3 linked regions of the Homo sapiens genome follow. The protein of the gene in region 2 interacts with the protein of the main gene of each other region in a pairwise test. Each region holds a gene or a part of one and is shown on either strand. Other genes may lie near its edges.

Region 1 (7,025 bases), on a different chromosome or scaffold from region 2:
AATCTAGAAGTGTCTTATTAAATCAGCACTAGTATGAACAGATGCTCTTCCACTGTTTACAAGAGGCAGAGACTTTGAATTCATTTTTTTCCCAATAGAAAACAACTCACCTGTGAAGGCGGATATCCTGGAACCTGCCCCCTAAGAGGGGGTGCTTCAGTCTGACAGTCCTGCTGGGGATAGATCCAACGAGAGACTGGAGTTGGGCTGTTGCCAGATGAACGGTAAGTACTTGGAACTTCTGTGGAGTAACTGGTCTGAGTATAACCAGGTGCATAATAAGCCCCTGAGTATGAGGCAGTATTTGCCCCAGGGCCTGGGGGGTATGTTGGACCATACGCTCCATTTGTATAAGAATTCAAACTCTGAAAAAAACCAAGTTGAGTGAAAAAAAGATGAATTAGTAGAAGAGCTGAAATGCCCTGACTTAATGCCTAAACTTGAAAACTTTGAGAAGATGTTAATCACTAATGCAGGCCAGGCACAGTGGCTCATGCCTGTAATCCCAGCACTTTGGGAGCCCAAGGTGGGAGAATCATTTGAGGTCAGGAGTTTGAGACCAGCCTGGACAACATAGTGAGACCCTGTTTCTACAAAAATAAAATAAAATAATTAGCCAGGCATTGCCAGGCACAGTGGCTCAAGCCTGTAATCCTAGCACTTTGGGAGGCCGAGGCGGGTGGGTCACCTGAGGTCAGGAGTTCTAGACCAGCCTGGCCAAAATGGTGAAACCCCATCTCTACTAAAAATACAAAAATTAACCGGGCATGGTGGCAGGCGCCTGTAATCCCAGCTACTCGGGGGGCTGACGCAGGAGAATCGCTTGAACCCAGGAGGCGGAGGTTGCAGTGAGCCAAGATCGTGCCATCGCACTCCAGCCTGGGGGACAAGAGTAAGACTTCATCTCAAAAAAAAAAAAAAAAAAAAAATTATCTAGGCCTCATGGCACACATCTGTAGTCCAAGCTACTCAGGAGGCTGAGGTGAGAGGATTGCTTGAGCCCAGGAGGTCAAGGCTGCAGTGAGTCATGGTTGTACCACTGCACTCCAGCCTGGGCAACAGAGTGAGACTCTGTCTCAGAAAGTATAAGAAAACAAAAAAATTATTTAAAAAGACTATAGAGACAGACCTAGCTCTGCCATAGGCTTTGTATTTAACCTTCCCTAACTTCAGTTTCTCCATCAGGAAAATGAAGATCATAAACGTATCTTTGAGGATTACTGTCAAAATTAAATAAGATGACATATATAAAAGGTTTAGCATAGTGTCTGGCATATAGTATGCTCAATAAATGGTAATTATTTGTATTATGACTGTTGTTAGTATTATCATGGCTGGGTCATGACATGAACCCAGATCTGACTCTGAAGTCCAGTTCTTTGTATTACACCATCACTCTGCATCCCAAATGATACCAACAACAAACTCCTCATATATTGCTCACTGTAGTTTTAAATAACCTATTCAGACTCTTATCCACACCCAGAATCCTCAGTTTAATAATCCAAACAAGATTCAAGCTAGGCAGGCGCACAGGCTCATGCCTGTAATCCCAGCACTTTGGGAGGCTGAGAAGGGAGGATCACTTTTTTTTTTTTTTTTAAGATGGAGTCTTGCTCTGTCACCCAGGCTGGAGTGCAGTAGCAAGATCTTGGCTCACTGCAACCTCCACCCCCCAGATTCAAGCGATTCTCCTGCCTCAGCCTCCCAAGTAGCTGGGATTACAGGCATGCTATAATTTTTGTACTTTTAGTAGAGATGGGATTTCACCATCTTGGCCAGGCTGGTCTCGAACTCCTGACCTCATATCCACCCGCCTCAGCCTCCCAAAGTGCTGGGATTACAGGCATGAGCTACTGCATCCAGCCTAGGAGGGAGGATCACTTGAGCTCAGGAGTTACAGACCAGCCTCAGGAATATAGTCAAACCCCATCTATTTAAAAAAAAAAAAAAAAGTAATTTTTAAAAAAAGATTCAAGCTTAATGCTAAATTTAAATGATCACCTCAACGTGTTCTATTAATTTCTACTTTACCCTTTAAAAACAGTGAAAACACAGAATCCAGTTTTCCTATACTCATCTCTATCTCGAAGACTATATAATCTTTCCCACTTTAGGTATGAGGATACCCATGACCAAAGAATTCCATGCAGGATGAGGTATAATAAACAGTCAGCAATGCATTCCCTGAGCAGAAGACCATGAACCACCACTATGTTAAAACTACTAAGAGGCTGTTAAGGTCTTCGGGCATAAACAAAGAACTCCGTAATACATCACACACACAATTGGAGACTTAATAAAACATTATGTGACTTTTTGTACTGTTATTCAACTTCTAGAAATCCTAAGGAAATGATTCAACTAGAGAAAAAGTTATAGACATGAAGTTCTTCATCGCAGCATTATTTACAATCACACAAAATTGTAAACTACCTAAATGTCCTATAACAATGGAATCTTTAAGTAGATTAAAGACTATTCATTGAAAAAATTGTATTCAGTCTTCAAATTTTATTGTTATGGCTAGGCGCACAGACTCATGCCTGTAAAAATCCCAGCGTTTTGGGAAGCCAAGGTGGGAGGATTGCTTGAGCCCAGGAGTCTGAGAACAGCCTGTGCAAACAGCAAGACCTCATCTCTACAAAAAAAAAAAAAAAAAAAAAAAAAAAAATTAATTAGCTGGGCGTGGTATGGCACAGCTATAGTCCTTAGCTACACAGGAGGCTGAGGCAGGAGGATCGTTTGAGCCTAGGAGTTCAATGTTACAGTGAGCTATAATCAAGCCACTGTTCTCTAGCCTGGGTGACAGTAAGACCCTGTCTTCAACTAGCTAACTAACTAAATAAATATTTTACTGTTAGAACTGACCAGATATTTAATGATATGAAATAATTATTTTTAAGGTTGTTTTTTTCCTTTTAAGTTTTAATTTTTAATTAAAAATGTTTAAAAACATTGTGGTTATGTTTTTAAAACTTCCTTATATTTTAAAGAAACATACTTAGGTATTTATAAGTGATAAAATGATATCTGAAATTGCTTCAAAATACTCCAAGGAAATACTCCAAGAATAAATACACGACGGCCATGTACTGATAACCCATTGAAACCAATAGATGGGTTCATGTTACTTTAGTGTGTGATTCTCATTGCTTTTATGTGGCTTTTGTTGTTTATTTTTTTTCTTTTTCCCTTCTCACAGGCGTTGTTTTTGTTTTTTTTTTCGTTGTTGTTGTTTTTCTTTAAATAGAAATGAGGTCACGCTATGTTGCCAGGCTAGTCTCAAACTTTTAGGCTGAAGTGATCCTGGCACCTCAGCCTCCCAAAGTGCTGGGATTATACCATGCCTGGCCATTACTTTTTTTCTCCCCAAGACACCCAGGGTAGAATGCAGTGGCACAATCACGGCTCACTGCAGCCTCAAACTCCGGGCTCAAGCAATCCTCCCACCTTAGCATCCTAAGTAACTGGGACCACAGGCATGCACCACCATGCCTGGCTAATTTTTGTATTTTTTGTAGAGACAGGGTTTGGCCATGTTGCCCAGGCTGATCTCGAACTCCTGGGCTCAAGCAATCCACTCGCCTCAGCTTCCCAAAGTGCTGGGATTACAGGTGTGAGCCACCACATCTGGCCAGCCATTACTTTTGATGCTTGAAAATTTCCTTGATTCCTGGAATTACTTCCTGGTTTTGAGATGCCTTCATGAGTTCATTGCTTCTTTTCCCAAATAACCACTGTCCTGACAGATCACAAAGCTGTCACATGCATGTTTACAAAAGAACACAGAATCAGATTATATAACAGCCTTGCAGTTGCTAAAGATGTTTGTTAAGGATGAGCTAAAGATCCTATTTCAGAAACGTGGCAAAGTTTTTAAGTCTTTGTCTGAAAAGCAGCTTGTGTGAAAGTTGCCAATGCCAAGATGGAGTCACTTACATCAGACCCAAAATGGAGGGGGAGGTCACGAAGGAGGGGATCTCATGCACACATGTCTGCGATAAGTATTATCACAAGGACTTTTTTTTTTTTTTTTTTTGAGACAGGGTCTCACTCTGTCACCCAGGCTAGAGTACAGTGGCACCATCATAGCTCACTGCAGCCTAGATCTCCCAGGCTCAAGTTATCCTCCTGCCTCAGCCTCCCAAGTAGCTTGGACTACAGGTATGAGCCACTGCACCCAGCCTATATCACAGGGCTTTCTAAAAACTCACAAAAAATCCCTGTAGGCCCTACTCATCTTGCTTGTCCTACATATGTCTGTAACAGGACTTATCACAAAAAATTCCTCAACCAGGCACGGTGGCTCACACCTGTAATCTGAGCACTTTGGGAGGCCAAGGTGGGCGGATCACGAGGTCAGGAGATCGAGACCATCCTGGCTAACACGGTGAAACCCTGTCTCTACTAAAAATACAAAAAAATTAGCTGGGCGTGGTGGCAGGCGACTGTAGTCCCAGCTACTCAGGAGGCTGAGGCAGGAGAATGGCGTGAACTCGGGAGGCGGAGCTTGCAGTGAGCCAAGATCGTGCCATGGCACTCCAGCCTGGGCGACAGAGTGAAACTCTGTCCAAAAAAAGAAAAAAAAAAAATTCCTCAAGACTGCAGTTTCACATAAGCCATCTTCATAAGAACACTCGCTTAGCAATGAGTTTCCAGTAACATCAGCTCCTACAACAGGCCCCTGTGACCAATGATGTTTGTCTCAAAACAGCTTATATGGACTTCTCCTCTTTCCCTTTAAAAGTTTCCCCTTACTACAACTTCTCCAGATATGTAGGGGATGATTATCTATGGTATGCGCATCTGAAATTGTAATTCTCTGTTTATTTCCAAACAGATTCATTTCTTTGAAGAGTCCTTCTCTCTGTTGTTATTTTAGGTTGACACTTGGAGCACAGCAAAGAAAATACAGGAGTTCCTTGCACCATTTAGAGTCATAAGACGGAATCCAAAAAGGAAGAAAATGCTTCTAGGACTTCAGAACAGATTTCTGTTACATATTAAAGTATGTCATAAAAATGAAGGACTTGGCCAGGCGTGGTAGCTCATTCTTGTAATTCTAGCACTTTGGGAGACCAAGGCAGGTGGATCGCTTGAGGTCAGGAGTTCCAGACCAGCCTGGGCAACAAAGTGAGACCCCATCTCTACAAAAAATACAAAAATTAGCCAGGTGTAGTGGCGTATGCCTAAGGTCCCAGCCACTCAAGCAGTTAAGGTGGGAGGATCACCTGAGCCAGAGGAGATTGAGGCTGCAGTGAGCTGTGATCATGCCATTGCACTCCAGCCTGAGAAACAGAAAAAAAAAAAAAAAGGGGGCCGAGCACAGTGGCTCATGCCTGTAATCCTAGCACTTTGGAAGGCCAAGGCAGGTGGACTGCTTAAACTCAAAGAGTTTAAGATAAGCGGGGGCAACCCCCTCTCTACAAAAAATACAAAAATTAGCTGGGAATGGTGGCATGTGCCTGTAGTCCCAGCTACTCAGGAGGCTGCAGTGGGAGGATCGCTTGAGCCCAGGAGGTGGAGGTTGCAGTAAGCCAATATCATACCACTGTACTCCAGCCTGGGTGACAGAGGGAGACCTGGTCTCAAAAAAAGAAAGAAAAGAAAAGGAAAAAGAAGGACTTAAGAACAAAGCAGAAGCAACTCAACCGAGTTTGAATAATACTGAGAAAACCTCACGAACTTTATTAACAGTTGGGTGAGACAATATCTTCTGCTTCCAGAGATACAGCCTGAGATTGTGAACTTCCGTGCTGTTCACACCCTACTCCATGAATCGCCCTCCATGCTCCTCTCAAGAGTCCACACTATTAGTTAAAGAATGAAGTTCTGAAAAATGAGGAAGGCTTTAGTTCAAATGCTGCCCTAATACTTGCATAGCACATAAACTGCACCTGGCACATGGCAGGCTAATCAACTTGGAAGATTGGTCAGACACCTTAGCAACATTAACAGCTTCTTAAAAAAAAAAAAAAAAAAAAAAAAAAAAATATATATATATATATATATATATATATATATATATATATATATATAAATTCCACACTCAGAATAAATGCATGAAATTACATATTCTTGGCTTATTATAGCTACTTTTGAATGAGAATTTTTAAGATTTATAAAACCAACCAAACAGAAGAATGACCATGTGGCAAGGCTAACCCAAGGAGGTAGCCGGAAGGTAAAGACATGATACTGCTTAATTTTTTAAAAAGGAAACCAGTCATATCTATATACCACTATAGGAGTCTATCTTGGATAGAAGCTAGACCAAGTGCAATGGCTCACGCCTGTAATCCCAACACTTTGGGATGCTGAGGTAGAAGGATCACCTGAGCCCAGGAGTTCAAGACCAGCCTAGGCAACATAATGAGACCCCATCTCTGCAAAATATTTAAAAATTAAACCAGGTGTGGTTGCACGCACCTGTACCTAGGACACTGAGACAGGAGGATCACTTAAGTCCAGGAGTTCAAGGTTACAGTGATCTATGATTATGCCACTACAATGAACTGGGTGGTAGAGCAAGACTATCTATCTCAAGAAACAAACAAAAAAAAGATGATGATAAATGTATAATCCCCATGTGATGTTTCGCCAGAAAATACACATGTGCTCACCTCAAAAAGGTGTATGTCTAGACACCTTTGGGTTATTTTAAATCCAACAACTTGTATGTTGTATCTAAAAACATTTGCACATTATTACTGTTGCTTTTAAAAAGTTACTACTAAATTATAAGTTAATCTTTTTTGAACCTACATATGAATGTAATAAATACTTTTACCTAAGGGGGAAAATGTTATGAGAAAAAGCAATCTTTATCAGTAAGATCAGTGAAATCAGAAAAATTAACATTAACTTATAATTCATGACTATGAGTTTTGTCTCCCTCTTACATTAACTATAAAAGTACACATGCTACTCTCCAAACTGATCTATGATGCAATCTCAATAAAAATCTCAGCTGCCTGGCCAGGCATGGTGGCTCATGCCTGTAATCCCAGCACTTTGGGAGG
Region 2 (7,364 bases):
TTTCCTGCCTCAGCCTCCCGAGTAGCTGGGATCACAGGCATGTTCCACCATGCCCGGCTAATTTGGTATTTTTAGTAGAGATGGGGTTTCTCCATGTTGGTCAGGCTGGTCTCGAACTCCTGACCTTAGGTGATCTACCCACCTAGGCCTCCCAAAGTGCTGGGATTACAGGCGTCAGCCACCACGCCCAGCGCTAATTTTTAAATCTTTTGCAGAGACAGAGTCTCACTACGTTGCCCAGGCTGGTCACGAACTCCTGGCCTCAAATGGTCCTCTGCCTTGGCCTCCCCAAGTGCTGAGTTTACAGGCATGAGACACCACGTTTGGCCTTTCCCCAGATATTTTTGTTCTTCGGATGGTTGAATTCCTAGATGCTGAACCCTTGGATATTGAGGACCAATATTGAGCAGGAGAGGGCTGTGGGGTTAATAGAGGATTTTCTTTTCTTTTTTAAGAGGAAAATTTTATTCTTACTGAGATGGAGTCTGGCTCCCCTAGGCTGGAGTGCAATGGTTGAATCTCACTGCAACCTCCGCCTCCCAGACCCAAGCAATCCTCGCTCTTCAGCCTCCCAAGTAGCTGGGACTACAGATGCGGGCCACCACACCCGGCTAATTTTTTGGTAATTTTTTTGTACAGACGGGTTTTCACCATGTGGCCCAGCTTGGTCTCAAACTCCGCCTACTCCACCTCCCAAAGTGATGACATTACAGGCGTGAGTCACCGTACCTGGCCTGAACATTTTTTTTTTAATTAAAAAAATTTTTTTGAGACACAGTCTCACTCGGTTCCTTAGGCTGCGGTGTAGTGTAGTCTAGGCTCACTGCAACCTCTGCCTCCTGGGTTCAAGTGATTCTCCCACCTCAGCCTCCCAAGTAGGTGGGACCACAGGTGTGCACCACCACATCCAGCTAATTTTTTTTTTTTTTTTTGAGATGGAGTCTTGCTCTGTCGCCCAGGCTGGAGTGCAGTGGCATGGTCTCGGCTCACTGCAACCTCCACCTCCTGGGTTCACGCCGTTCTCCTGCCTCAGCCTCCTGTGTACCTGGGACTACAGGCGCCCGCCACCATGCCCAGCTAATTTTTTGTATTTTTAGTAGAGACGGGGTTTCACCGTGTTAGCCAGGATGGTCTCGATCTCCTGACCTCGTGATCCACCCGCCTTGGCCTCCCAAAGTGCTGAGATTACAGGCGTGAGCCACCAGGCCCAACCCTTATTTATTTATTTATTTTTCTTTTTGAGATGGAGCCTTGCTCTGTCACCCAGGCTGGATTGCAGTGGCGCAATCTTGGCTCACTACAACCTCCACCTCCCGGGTTCAATTGATTGTCCCACCTCAGCCCCCCAAGTAGCTGGGACTACAGGCACCCGCCACCATGCCCGGCTAATTTTTTGTATTTTTAGTAGAGATGGGGTTTCACCGTGTTAGCCAGAATGGTCTCGATCTCCTGACCTTATGATCTGCCCACCTCGGCTTCCCAAAGTGCTGGGATTACAGGTGTGACCCACTGTGCCTGGCCTATTTATTTATTTTTTCTTTTTTTCCTTTTTTTTTTGAGACAGAGTCTCGCTCTGTCGCCAAGGCTGGAGTGCAGTGGCGCGATCTCGGCTCACTGCAAGCTCCGCTTCCCAGTTCATGCCATTCTCCTGCCTCGGCCTCCCGTGTAGCTGGGACTACAGGCGCCCACCACCACGCCCAGCCAATTTTTTTGTATTTTTGTATTTTTTTTTTTTGAGATGGAGTCTCGCTCTGTCCCCAGGCTGGAGTGCAGTGGCACCGTCTTGGCTCACTGCAAGCTCTGCCTCCGGGCTTCACGCCATTCTCCCGCCTCAGCCTCCCAAGTAGCTGGGACTGCAGGGGCCCGCCACCATGCCCGGCTAATTTTTTATATTTTTAGTAGAGATGAGGTTTCACCGTGTTAGCCAGGATGGTCTCGATTTCCTGACCTCGTGATCCGCCCACCTCGACCTCCCAAAGTGCTGGGATTACAGGCCTGAGCCACCGCGCCCGGCCCTATTTATTTTTTTAATTGAGATGGAGTCTCACTCTGTTATCCAGGCTGGAGTGCAGTGGTGCGATCTCGGCTCATTGTAACCTCCGTTCCTGGGTTCAAGCGATTTTCCTGCCTCAGCCTCCTGAGTAGCTGGGACTACAGGTGCATGCCACCATGCCCAGATAATTTTTGTATTTTTTCAGTAGAGACAGGGTTTCACCGTGTTGGCCAGGCTGGTCTCGAATTCCTGGCTTCAAGTGATCCGCCCGCCTTAACCTCCCAAAGTGCTGGGTTTACAGGCATGAGCTATCTTGCCTGGCCACTATTTTTTAGATTTTTTGTAGAGATGAGTCTCCCTATGTTGCCCAGGCTGGTCTCTAACTCCTGGGCTCAAGCAATCCTCCCAACCTGGCCTCCCAAAATGTTGGGATTACAAGCATAAGTCACTATGCCCAGCTTTATTTTTAATTTTTTTTTCTTTTGAGACGGAGTCTCGCTCTGTCGCCCAGGCTGGAATGCAGTGGCTTGATCTCGGCTCACTGCAAGCTCCGCCTCCCGGGTTCACGCCATTCTCTTGCCTCAGCCTCCTGAGTAGCTGGGACTACAGGCGCCCGCCACCACGCCCGGCTAATTTTTTGTATTTTTAGTGAGACGGGGTTTCACCGTGTTAGCCAGGATGGTCTCGATCTCCTGACCTCATGATCCGCCCGCCTCGGCCTCCCAAAGTGCTGGGATTACAGGCGTGAGCCACTGCACCTGGCCTATTTAAATTTTTTTAACATTCCTCATTGAGCACTCAACTTGTCTTTTTTTCTTCTCTTTTTCCCCCTTACGTTGTATCTTGGGCCTTATGTGTCCAAACTCTGAAGAGAGGAGACCAGCGCTGGAGTTGAGAGAGAAAAAAGAGCCATGGTGATGAGGAGAGAGTTTAGTCCTGTACCTCCTCTTGCCTGCTGCTTTCAAGTCTGTTTTGTTGAATTCTCAGGACTCGATTGAGCTTAGTCTCTTGTCAGGCTATGCCAAAGCAGCACAGTAGTCTAGGGACTGACAGTTGGGCCTCACTGGACTTTAGTGGTTTTCTTTTACCAGTTTGAAAAAGGGCCAGGCTCACAGTGAGAGCTGGAAAGCAGGGGACTATTTGCCTGCGAATTCCTCAATAGCATACACGCGATGCCTAGAACATTTCTGTCCAATAAACAGCATGTGCTTGATAAACATACTGAACTTAGCGGTGTCCCCAGTGCATTCTAGGCGAGGTCACCTCCTTGACAAGGTCCCCAGGACTTCATTGCACCTCCTAGCTAGTAGCGTATTCTAGGATGGCAAAGCTGCCTTTACATAATTACCCCCGATACATTCTAGACACGATCATCTTGAAAGAGACCCAAATTTTACCAGGCATGGTGACTCAGGCCTGTAATCCCAGCACTTTGGGAGGCCGGGGCGGGCGAATCATCTGAGGTCAGGAGTTCGAGACCAGCCTGGCCAACATGGTGAAACCCCGTCTCTACTAAAAATACAAAAGTTAGCCAGGCGTGGTGGTGCAAGCCTGTAATCCCAGCTAGTCAGGAGGCTGAGGCAGGAGAATCGTTTGAACCCGGGAGGCGGAGGTTGCAGTGAGCTGAGATCGCGCCACTGCACTCCAGCCTGGGCAACAAGAGCAAAACTCCGTCTCAAAAAAAAAAAAAAAAAAAAAAGACCCAGGCTGGGCGCGGTGGCTCATGCTTGTAATCCCAGCGCTTTAGAAGGCTGAGGTGGGTGGATCACCTGAGGTCGGGAGTTCGAGACCAGCCTGACCAACATGATAAAACCCCGTCTCTACTAAAAATACAAAATTAGCTGGGCGTGGTGGTGCATGCCTGTAATCCCAGCTACTCGGGAGGCTGAGGCAGGAGAATCGCTTGAACCCGGGAGGCGGAGGTTGTTTGAGCCGAGATCACGCCATTGCACTCCAACCTGGACAACAAGAGCGAAACTTCGACTCAGAAAAAAAAAAAAAAAGACCCAAATTTATCATCAGTGGTCACCTCAGAGCACCTGAATTCAGGCCTTTAAGTGCAAGTAGGATGCAGAATTCTGGAAGAGCCAGTAAGTCTGTGGCTCCTTGGGGAAGCGCGATCCAAGGGTTTAGTAACCTAGGCACGGTACTCCAGAGGCGTACCCTGAGGCAGCCGCCAAATTCTCTAAGCCTCAGAATTCTTCAAGGCCAGCTCCCATGTCCACTAGAGACCCAGGGGTCCAGACCATCAGGCACTGAGGAAGACGCCCCCGGCAGGGGCTGCGCAGGCGCGTGCGGCCCGAAAGGGCCCAGGCGCTACACGCTGCGCAGGCGCAGGAGCGGCTCCGGGTAGTCCCCACAGCTGCGCCGGTGACTGAGGGGCCGGGCAGTGGAGAAGTGGTGGCGGCGGGCGGCGGGCGGCAAAGGAGCAGCCATGAGGGCCGGGCCCAGTCACCGACCGTGAGTAGTGGTGGAGGGGGAGTGGACAACGCGTGGGAAGAGGGTAACTTAGCGGAAGGATACATGACTTTGTGGGGTGGGCTCTGACTGTGGGAGACGGAAGGGCGTGGGGGAGGTACAGTTTGAGGTGATGATGGGAGAATTTGGGGCACGGGTGGCCCGGTCGCCGGCCGCAGAGCTGGACAGCTTGGTGGAGGGGGACGGGGTTGCGTGCTGTGGAGTGAAGCAGCCCATTTGTATCATCCCTTCCTCCAGGAGCTTTTGGTCGCCTCTCCTTTCCGCTTCTTTCAGAGAATGATTGCGGGGGGAGGGTGGTGGAGGATGAAAGCTCTGCTGGAGCTTAAGAAGCCACCTCTGAACCAGGCAGGGGAAGGGTCGGTCTCCCGGAGTAATAGGCTGCTCTGGGTAGAGGATGGGAGTCGGGAACCCTCTTTTGAAAGCCGGGAGGGGTCTAGGGAAAAGAGCTAGGGGCTTAGAGTCAGGCAGGTTCGAAAGGAAGTCCACCATTGATAAAGCTGTTAGGTAACCTTGGGCAGGTCCCACTTAACCTTTCTGAACACCAGGAAGATGTCATGCTTCAAACGGGCTATTGCAAGCATCACCTATGTAATTGAGATTGTTTATGCAAATTGTGAATTGTAAGTACTATGTTGATGTTAATGTATCACCAACAATGTTAGTGGAATTTAGACCTTACCGTTGTTAATGGAATGACTGATTTCTCTGTTAAGATAAGAAGCGTATTGTTTGTAAAACCTCAGTAGACACATATGTGCTTTCTTTATGGGCACAGCAGACCATGTGCAGAACTACCAGTTCTGTAATGTGATAAATTAGCCATCAGACTTCTGTAGGAAAAATACCGTACTCCGGCGTTTTTACAAACGGTTTGCAGCTCCTCACCCGAAAGGATGGAGGGCCAATCTATTAAAATATTTTCTGAACATAGCTAACTCATGTTGCCTTATAACACAGTTGGCACTAATGTGCTTTAACGAGTTGAGAAAAGGCCGGGTGCAGTGGCTCATGTCTGTAATCCCAGCACTTTGGGAGGCCGAGGCGGGCGGATCACGAGGTCAGAAGTTGGAGACCAGCCTAGCCAACGTAGTGAAATCCCGTCTCTACTAAAAATACAAAAAATCAGCCGGGTGTGGTGGCGGGCGCCTGTAATCCCAGCTGCTTGGGAAGCTGAGGCAGGGGAATCACTCGAACCCGGGAGGCAGAGGTTGCGGTGAGCCGAGATAGTGCTATTGCACTCCAGTTCGGGTGACAGTGCGAGACTCCGTCTGGAAAAAAGAGTTAAGAAAACTAGTTTGAGACAAGCTGGGAGGGCTGCCCAGTGAGGGATGTGAAAATATAATTTGTTTATTATATTTTATTTTATTTTTGAGACGGAGTCTCGCTCTGTCGCCAGGCAGGAGTGCAGTGGCATCATCTCGGCTCACAGCAACCTCCGCCTCCCGGGTTCAAGCGATTCTCCTGTCTCAGCCTCCTGAGTAGCTGGGATTACAAATGCCCACCACCACGCCTGGCTAATTTTTGTAGTTTTAGTAGAGATGGGGTTTCACCATGTTGGCCAGGCTGGTCTTGAACTCCTCACGTCAGGTGATCCACCCACCTCGGCCTCTCAAAGTGCCGGGATTACAGGCGTGAGCCACCGTGCCTGGCTATTTTGTTATCTTTATTTTTATTTTATTTTATTATAATTTTTTTTGAGGTGGGTGAAGGAGTCTTGCTCTGTCACCCAGGCTGGAGTGCAGTGGTGCGAACTTGGTTCACTGCAACCTCCGCCTCCTGGGTTCAAGCAATTCTCCTGCCTCAGCCTCCCTAGTACCTGGGATTATAGGCACGTGCCACCATACCCGGCTAATTTTTGTATTTTTTTTAGTACACTCGGGGTTTCTCCATTGCTGGACAGGCTGGTCTCAAACTTCTGACCTCAGGTGATCCGCCCGCCCCAGCCTCCCAAAGTGCTGGGATTACAGGCGTGAACCACCGTGCTTGGCCCATTTTATTATTTTTAAATTATAAAAAGTTCTCCTTTGCAAAGGAGTCTCTGGCTGCTCCGGGGACCTGTCGCTGTTTTGGAGGTCAGATATGCATAAGGCAGCCCTCTAGCTCTGCTTTTTGTTACCCTGCTTGTCAGTGGGATCTCTCAGGTGGAATATCTCAGAAGAGGAGCCCAAGAGGTGTCTTGGTTTTCCTGAGAGGCTGAAGAAACACTCCTGAGACGTGTTTTTTAATGTAGACAAAGCAGAGGACAAACTATGTGTTTATGGAAAGAGAAAATGGGTTCTTTTTATTTTATTTTGTTTTGACACAGAGTCTTGTTCTGTCGCCCAGGCTGGAGTGCAGTAGCGCAATCTCGGCTCATTGCAACCTCCACCTCCCGGGTTCAAGCAGTTCTCCTGCCTCAGCCTCCAAGTAGTTGCGATTACAGGCACCCACCACCATGCCCGGCTAGTTTTTGTATTTTTAGTAGAGATGGGGTTTCGCCATTTTGGTCAGGCTGGTTTCGAACCAGGTGATCCGCCTGCCTCGGCCTCCCAAAGTGCTGGGATCACAGGCGTAAGCCACCAAGCGCAGTGAGAAAATGGTTTCTAAAGTAGAGATGCAGACTCCTTTTAAAAGGACATAGACACTTCAGCTTTGCTGACTCTGAGGATTGAGACCTTAAACTGTCAAGGCGTTTTGGCAATTGATGAGTGATTGGTCTTTTACCTGAGTAAAGGTAGGGAGGGGCTATACTAGATTCTTGAAGATTCACAAATAAGGGGAGTGAATTTACAGGAATGGGAAAAATGAACCTGGTTGTTTTTAACTTCTCTGTCTGGTAAAATGTGTTTCACTTTTCTTTCCTGGAAATGCACAGTGATGTATAATTTTAACCTTTTTACTTTAGTTCCTTGAC
Region 3 (7,025 bases), on a different chromosome or scaffold from region 2:
ATGGTGGCTACCCTTCTGTGTTTTCACAACTTAGATTAGCTTTGCCTGTCCTGAAGGTTCAGATCAATAGAATCCTACGGTACATATTTTTGTGTGTGTCTTGCTGCTTTTATTCAGCATAATGTTTTGAAATTTATCCGTGTTGCATAAATCATTGAGGTATGTTGCTGAGTTGCATTCCTTTGTCAGAATACACCAGATCGTATACATTCAACTTGTTTTAAGTGTTTTTTTTGTGTGTGTGTGTTTTTTTTTTGAGACGGAGTCTCGCTCTGTTGTTCAGGCTGTAGTGCAGTGGTGCAATCTCTGCTCACTGCAACCTCCGCCTTCCAGGTTCAAGCAATTCTCCTGCCTCAGCCTCCCGAGTAGCTGGGACTACAGGCACGTGCCACCACACCTGACTAATCTTTTGTATTTTTAGTAGAGATGGGGTTTCATCGTGTTGGCCAGGATGGTCTCAATCTCCTGACCTGGTGATCCGCCTGCCTCAGCCTCCCAAAGTGCTGGGATTACAGGCATGAGCCACTGTGCCCGGGCTGTTTAAGTCCTAAAAGAATGCTTGTGGCTGGGTGTGATGGCTCACTCCTGTAATCCTAGCACTTTGGGAGGCCGAGGTGGGCAAATCACTTGATGTCAGGAGTTCGAGACCAGCCTGGCCAACATGGCGAAACCCCGGCTCTATTAAAAATACAAAAAACTAGCTGGGCGTGGTGGTGCACGCCTATAATCCCAGCTACTCGGGAAGTTGAGGGAAGATGAGGCAGGAGAATCGCTTGAACCTAGGAGGTGGAGGTTGCAGTGAGCCGAGATTGCACCACTGCACTCCAGCCTGGGCGACAGTGAGACTCCATCTAAAAAAAAAAAGAATGCTTACAACTGAGAGTGATGAAACTAGGCCAAGGACCGCCCCCCACCTCCCCAGGAGCCTCTCTGGAGGCTCACACCTGCTGGTCCTGTCCTTGAATAGACAGAAAAAAGGTTCCCCCTGTTCTCTGAATTTCTTTTCGGTGTGATAGATCTCATTGCCTGTGCATTTAACACTCCTAAATTTTATAAAACGATTATTTCTTTGGCATTTATCCAAGAGAAATGAAAAACCAATGTTCATGCAAAAACATGTTCTAGAATGTCCATAGCAGCTTTATGTGTAATAACTCCAAACTGGAAACAAGGAAAAAGTTCCCTTCAGCTGGGGTGTGGTGACACTCTGCTCCGTCTGTGCCTCCAGATCCTACTCTGTTGGGAACTGTTGACACACAAGAGTTTGCAAGGATCTCAAGAGAATTATGCTGAAGGAGAAAAGCCAACCTCAGAAGGGTGCTTGCTGTGGGATCCCATTTATGCCACATTGTTGGGCTGACCCAGAGCTGAAGGGTGGCATGGCCAGAAAAGGACCTACACAGGGAGGCCAGGGTGTCTGGTCCTGGCAGGAGAGCAGCCGTGGAACAGGGTAGGAACACAGACGTGGAGCTCAGTGGAGGAGGGAAGGAACGCTTAGCTGTGGGGCTTAGAGACTTGGCAAAACAAGAGGAAGCTTTACCAGCAAGTGTGCAGAAATAGTGCGGGAGAAAGTTGGTGGAGCGTTCCACCTTCTTAGGATGCAGTTTAATAATGTTTATCAAGCCTCTTAAAAATGTACCTGCACATCACCCTAGTAAGTAAAGAGCCGAGGCTAAGGAAGCCAAATGCTAGAAATACCAAAACACCTAAAGTTAGAAACTGGTATCATTTGTGATTGGGAAAATTGTCAGTAGTGTGAAACTTCCCTCCCTTGTGCAGAGAGGAAAGTGCTGGGAGAAACGACTGGAAAGGAGGAACCCAGGTGGTGACTGTGTTTTTCTGAGTGGATGGGATCCTGGGAGAAAATTCGTTTTATGGTTTTTGATGCTCTTCCAGATTGTCTATGGTGAGCTGTGGAAATAAGCAACCAGGTGAGAACAGGCAGAGGCTGTTTATCCAGAGCTTCCCCTAGCAAGGGTGCGGCCCTCCTCTCTCGTGATTGGCAGAAACTCATAGGCAGGTGAGGGAACAGGAGAGCTTTACAGTGGAATCCAGGGAAGCTCAGGGATGGCTGATGGAGGCTGCTGACTTGGGGGACTGGGGTGGCCAGTTAGAAGTGGGGCTCCTGGCCTGGCACGGTGGCTGACGCCTGTAGTCCCAGCACTTTGGGAGGCCAAGGTGAGTGGATCACCCGAGGTCAGGAGTTTTGAGACCAGCCTGACCAACATGGTAAGTCTCTACTGAAAATATAAAAATTAGCCAGGCCTGGTGGTACACCCTTGTAATCCCAGCTACTCGGGAGGCTGAGGCAGGAGAATCCCTTGAACCTGGGAGGCGGAGGTTGCGGTGAGCTGAGATTGCGCCACTGCACTCCAGCCTGGGCGACACAACAACAACAACAAAGAAGTGGGGCTCCTGTGAGATGGCCTAGAACATGTTTGGCTTTCTCTGGTTGGTCCTAAATTGGAAGCAGGGACAAAAACTGGAGAGGTTGTCGGTTACTAATCATGTCCTGGCCATTTTGGGCTGCTTGCTATGGAAATGATTGTTTAGCTTCCTGGATTGTTCCTAGAGAAAGCAGCCAGGCTTCCTGCAGGTCTGACTAGGGCAACCTGGCTTCCTGGCCCGTTACTGAAGGTAAAGGGCTGGTTTCCGACTGATGGCGGCAGATAATGGCTGAGAGTTCTGTTTCTGTATGTGGTTCCGCCATTGTTTGTTGGTATATTCCCTCGCTCAGAGCAGATGTTATTAGGGTGATTTCTGACGGTCACGTATTGCTAGTGCTGCCCTTAGGACCGCTGACAGCACCAGGCCAAGCACTGAATTCATCCTCTTAAGATCCCCAGTGGGAGGCTTCTAGTATCCATATCTGGCTTTCAGAAAAGGGCGGGAGGGTCTGTCGTTGGGTTTGGACTCAGGACCTGGCATTTCTAAGGACTCAGAGGAAAGGAAAGTGGGACCCAGAGGGTCCTAGGAGCTTGGGACAGCTTCTTGAACTGGTTCCCAGTGTGGTTGTGGGTCTTCTTGGCCTGTCCCATTGGTATTCTTGTTCCTTCTGTGAGTTGCCCTGATTGCCCTGCTCAGTCGTGCTGACCTCCTGTAGGCCCCACATTATGGGGGTTGTGCTGCTGGGTTTCCAGAGTCAGGGGAGGCAGCCAGGGGTTCTTCTGTCTATAAACTTGGGCTTAATGCATGCTGTTCAAGAGGATTTGGTTTGGGTCCTAAATTAATCCATTGCTATGCAGGCTTGGGATTGAGATAGGTTGAAAGAGAAACTAAAAACCTAAAAGGTATATTGACTTCCCACAGAGGAACCCGTGGGACTTAATCTTTTCCCCAACGCAGGGTGTCCTTTGTAGTTTGACATAGCCTTATGTTAATTCTCGATATACTTAGCAATTTTAAGCCAGTGATTTAAACAATGGATTGGGATGGAAAAGCTCTGAAAAGTTAAATTTGTGGCTGACACAAAGAACTCGAATATTTACCAAAAGTAATAGAAATGTGTAAATGTGTTTTGGTGGTAAACTGTCCTTCATTTAGAATTAGTTGAGAAGCTGGTGTATGCAGGTGTGAGAGGCGGTGCCCAGCCTGAGGGCTGTGCCTGTGGTGACACTGGCATGCTGCTCTGGGGAAATGGGTGCTGTAGGGGAAATAAGCTAGGGTTAGGGAAGTTTTCCTTTAATTTTAATTTTGAAATAATTGTAGAGCCAGGGGAGGTTGCAGAGCAGTGTTCAGGAGGTCCTATGTGCCCTTCCTCTGCTCCCCAGGGCCGGCATCCTTGTAGGATGCACAGCCAGGCCCCAGGTCCGTGTGATGACACGGCTGCCGCAGGCGCATGTGTGCGTGTCCGGCGCTGTGCAGTCAGGGTAGGGCCACCCCCACAGCCCAGGAGCAGAAGGGCCCTCACCCCCAAGATCTCCCTGCGCAGGTTCCTTTCTAGCCCTGCCACCCCTCAGCTCTGGGTCAGCATGACAATGTGGCATAAATGGGATCCCATAGCAAGCACCCTTCTGAGGTTGGCTTTTCTCCCTCAGCCTAATGCCCCTGTGGAAGGATCCGTCCTGTGTATCAACAGTTCATTTCTTTCTATTGCAGAGTAGGATTTGGTGGCATGAATGGAGCAGAGTGTGTGTCACCGTGCCCAGGTGAAGGGTACATTTTCCTTGTTTCAGATTTGGAGCTACTACAAATAAAGCTGCTGTGCACATTCTGGAACATGTTTTTTGCATGAACATTGGCTTTTTCTCTGGGATAAATGCCCAAGAGGTCACTTAGTTTTTTAAAATTTACATGTGTTAAAGGCACGGGGATGAGATCTGTGACACTGAAGGGAAATTCAGAGAACAGGGGGACCCTTTCTTCTGTTAATTCAAGGGTAGGACCAGCAGGTGGGAGCCTCCAGAGGGGCTCCTGGGAAGGGGTATGTTTGGCAGCCAGTTCTCCCGCACTGCAAAACTTCCCATCCTTGGTCTCCAGACCCCGAGCAGAGACAGCATGTGCCTCCCATACGCCAGCTTTCCAAGAGCACCTGGGTATACCCTGGTCACAGGGAGCCATCAGATTGACTAAGAGAAAAAGAAGTTCCAAAGTTTGCATATTCAAAAGATTGTAACCCTATTTATGCATAACTTGAATTATTTGAAATAATATTTCACTACATTACAAGCATGAGAAGAGAGAAACTTAATCATGCGTGAGATGCTTGTCCTGTCAGACTCTGCCGGCCAGTATGGCCCTGAGCCAGCTGTCATCCTCCCAGCTCCCCGCAGGCGGCACTGGCTCAGAATGGCATCTGTCAAAAGCCAGAGCCCACCCTCCTGTCTGCTCTGCCTTTAGTGCCCCAGAGATGTCCCAATTTAGAATCAGTTAAAAAAAAAAAAAAACAGTTTGCACAGACTTGTACTTCTGAGAGTAGACATGGCCAATGTCCATCTAGTGCATCTGTGCTGTGCGTCTTAGTGGAACCTGCCCAGCAAGGCTGAGCCTTAGGTGCCATCCCGGAGTTGCCCAGGTCTGGGGTAAGATCCAGGAATCTGCATCTTCAACCAACAGCGCCAGTGCTGAGGCATACGCCGAGAAACACTGCCTTGGCCAGCTCTGGGCTGCCACAACACACTGGTGAGGAACCCACCCCCCCTGCCCCGGACACACACATACCCTGCCATGTTTTGGTTCCTTTGAAGAGAAAGGAGTTGAGATGAGAGGGGAGGTGGCCCCTGAGGCCATGGTTGTACGGGCTGGTCAGAGCTCTCGAGTGGAGGGCATTGACCTGAGAGATGTCAAGTAGAAAGCAGCCAGGCAGAGCCTGTGCACCTTGGGAGAAATGAACTGGTGGGGCGGGTGGGGGGAGCCAAGGAATGGGTGTGATCCCTAAGGCAGGCAGCATGGGCGGGTGTGGGAGCAAGGGACTGTCCAGGGCCACATAGGCTCGGCCAGGAGACCCTGTGTCCCTTGGAGAATTGTGCACGAAACACAGACCACTCGCTGCATGGGATGAGCATACAGCCCTGCAGTCCTTCCCCTGCGCGTTCCTGGTGGCACAGCTTTCCAGCCCGGCTGTCTGCGACATATAGAGGCTTTTAGTGAAAGCATTGAGGGGGAAGGCACTAACTCTTCTGAACGCAGAAGTGACTTTGTCCGAGGCAGGATCCTGAGGGAAGTCAGAATGGTACGTGTGTGTGCCCGGCCCTGTCCGGCCCCCGCCCTGCGCCCTCTGCAGGCTGGCACGGTTCACATTAATCTCATGTTACCCCAGGGTCTCTTCTTTTGTACACACCACAGTTAGATTTTTGAAACAGATTTTCAGCCAAGCTCTCGAACACTTACATTTCTCTTATATATTTCTCCTATTTTTAGTTCATTTATCTTTTTTGCTATAAAACACTGTCGTGGTACAGTTGAGAGGTTTGTCGTTTCTAACAACGTGACTGTGCCTGGCTTAGGCAGGATGGCAGCTGATCTGGGGGTGGGGGTCTCCCACTGGGCTCCACGTCTCAGCTCTGTTAGGGAGTTACAGCTCTGTCAAGTCCCTGCCAGTTACGGAGTCGCTGCTCCTTGCGTACAGTGAGGGCAGTCAGACGAAATCCAAGGGGCGCTGTCCGCAGAGAGTCTGCCGTGTGCTAAGTGGTGTCTTCCTTGGTTTCTGCAGGACACAATGTTTGCACGAGGACTGAAGAGGAAATGTGTTGGCCACGAGGAAGACGTGGAGGGAGCCCTGGCCGGCTTGAAGACAGTGTCCTCATACAGCCTGCAGCGGCAGTCGCTCCTGGACATGTCTCTGGTGAAGTTGCAGCTTTGCCACATGCTTGTGGAGCCCAACCTGTGCCGCTCAGTCCTCATTGCCAACACGGTCCGGCAGATCCAAGAGGAGATGACGCAGGATGGGACGTGGCGCACAGTGGCACCCCAGGCTGCAGAGCGGGCGCCGCTCGACCGCTTGGTCTCCACGGAGATCCTGTGCCGTGCAGCGTGGGGGCAAGAGGGGGCACATCCTGCTCCTGGCTTGGGGGACGGCCACACACAGGGTCCAGTTTCTGACCTTTGCCCAGTCACCTCAGCACAGGCACCAAGGCACCTGCAGAGCAGCGCCTGGGAGATGGATGGCCCTCGAGAAAACAGAGGAAGCTTTCACAAGTCACTTGATCAGATATTTGAAACGCTGGAGACTAAAAACCCCAGCTGCATGGAAGAGCTGTTCTCAGACGTGGACAGCCCCTACTACGACCTGGACACAGTACTGACAGGCATGATGGGGGGTGCCAGGCCGGGCCCCTGCGAAGGGCTCGAGGGCTTGGCTCCGGCCACCCCAGGCCCTAGCTCCAGCTGCAAGTCCGACCTGGGCGAGCTGGACCACGTGGTGGAGATCCTGGTGGAGACCTGAGCAGGAGCCCTGAGTGCTCACAGCCGCCTCTGACGCATTGACACGTGAGCACTGGCTCCCACGGAGGGTGCGCCTGCCGCCAGCGGCCCAGCCTTGCTGCCCTGTCTGCTGATTCTGAGAAATCCCAGAACAGCCCATTACC

What was found.
Region 1: the proteins of FAM222B (region 2) and BAG4 interact in binary tests that used the Homo sapiens proteins (3 or more experiments, as listed by UniProt).
Region 3: the proteins of FAM222B (region 2) and CDCA4 interact in binary tests that used the Homo sapiens proteins (3 or more experiments, as listed by UniProt).

What each region holds. Positions count from the first base shown.
Region 1 is NC_000008.11:38,200,852-38,207,876, reverse strand, and holds part of BAG4 (BAG family molecular chaperone regulator 4), read right to left. Parts: intron 366-7,025; coding exon 111-365; intron 1-110. UniProt on the Homo sapiens protein: Inhibits the chaperone activity of HSP70/HSC70 by promoting substrate release. Prevents constitutive TNFRSF1A signaling. Negative regulator of PRKN translocation to damaged mitochondria.
Region 2 is NC_000017.11:28,839,771-28,847,134, reverse strand, and holds the start of FAM222B (protein FAM222B), read left to right. Parts: upstream 1-4,344; 5' UTR 4,345-4,453; intron 4,454-7,364.
Region 3 is NC_000014.9:105,011,062-105,018,086, reverse strand, and holds part of CDCA4 (cell division cycle-associated protein 4), read left to right. Parts: intron 1-6,151; 5' UTR 6,152-6,157; coding exon 6,158-6,883; 3' UTR 6,884-7,025. UniProt on the Homo sapiens protein: May participate in the regulation of cell proliferation through the E2F/RB pathway. May be involved in molecular regulation of hematopoietic stem cells and progenitor cell lineage commitment and differentiation.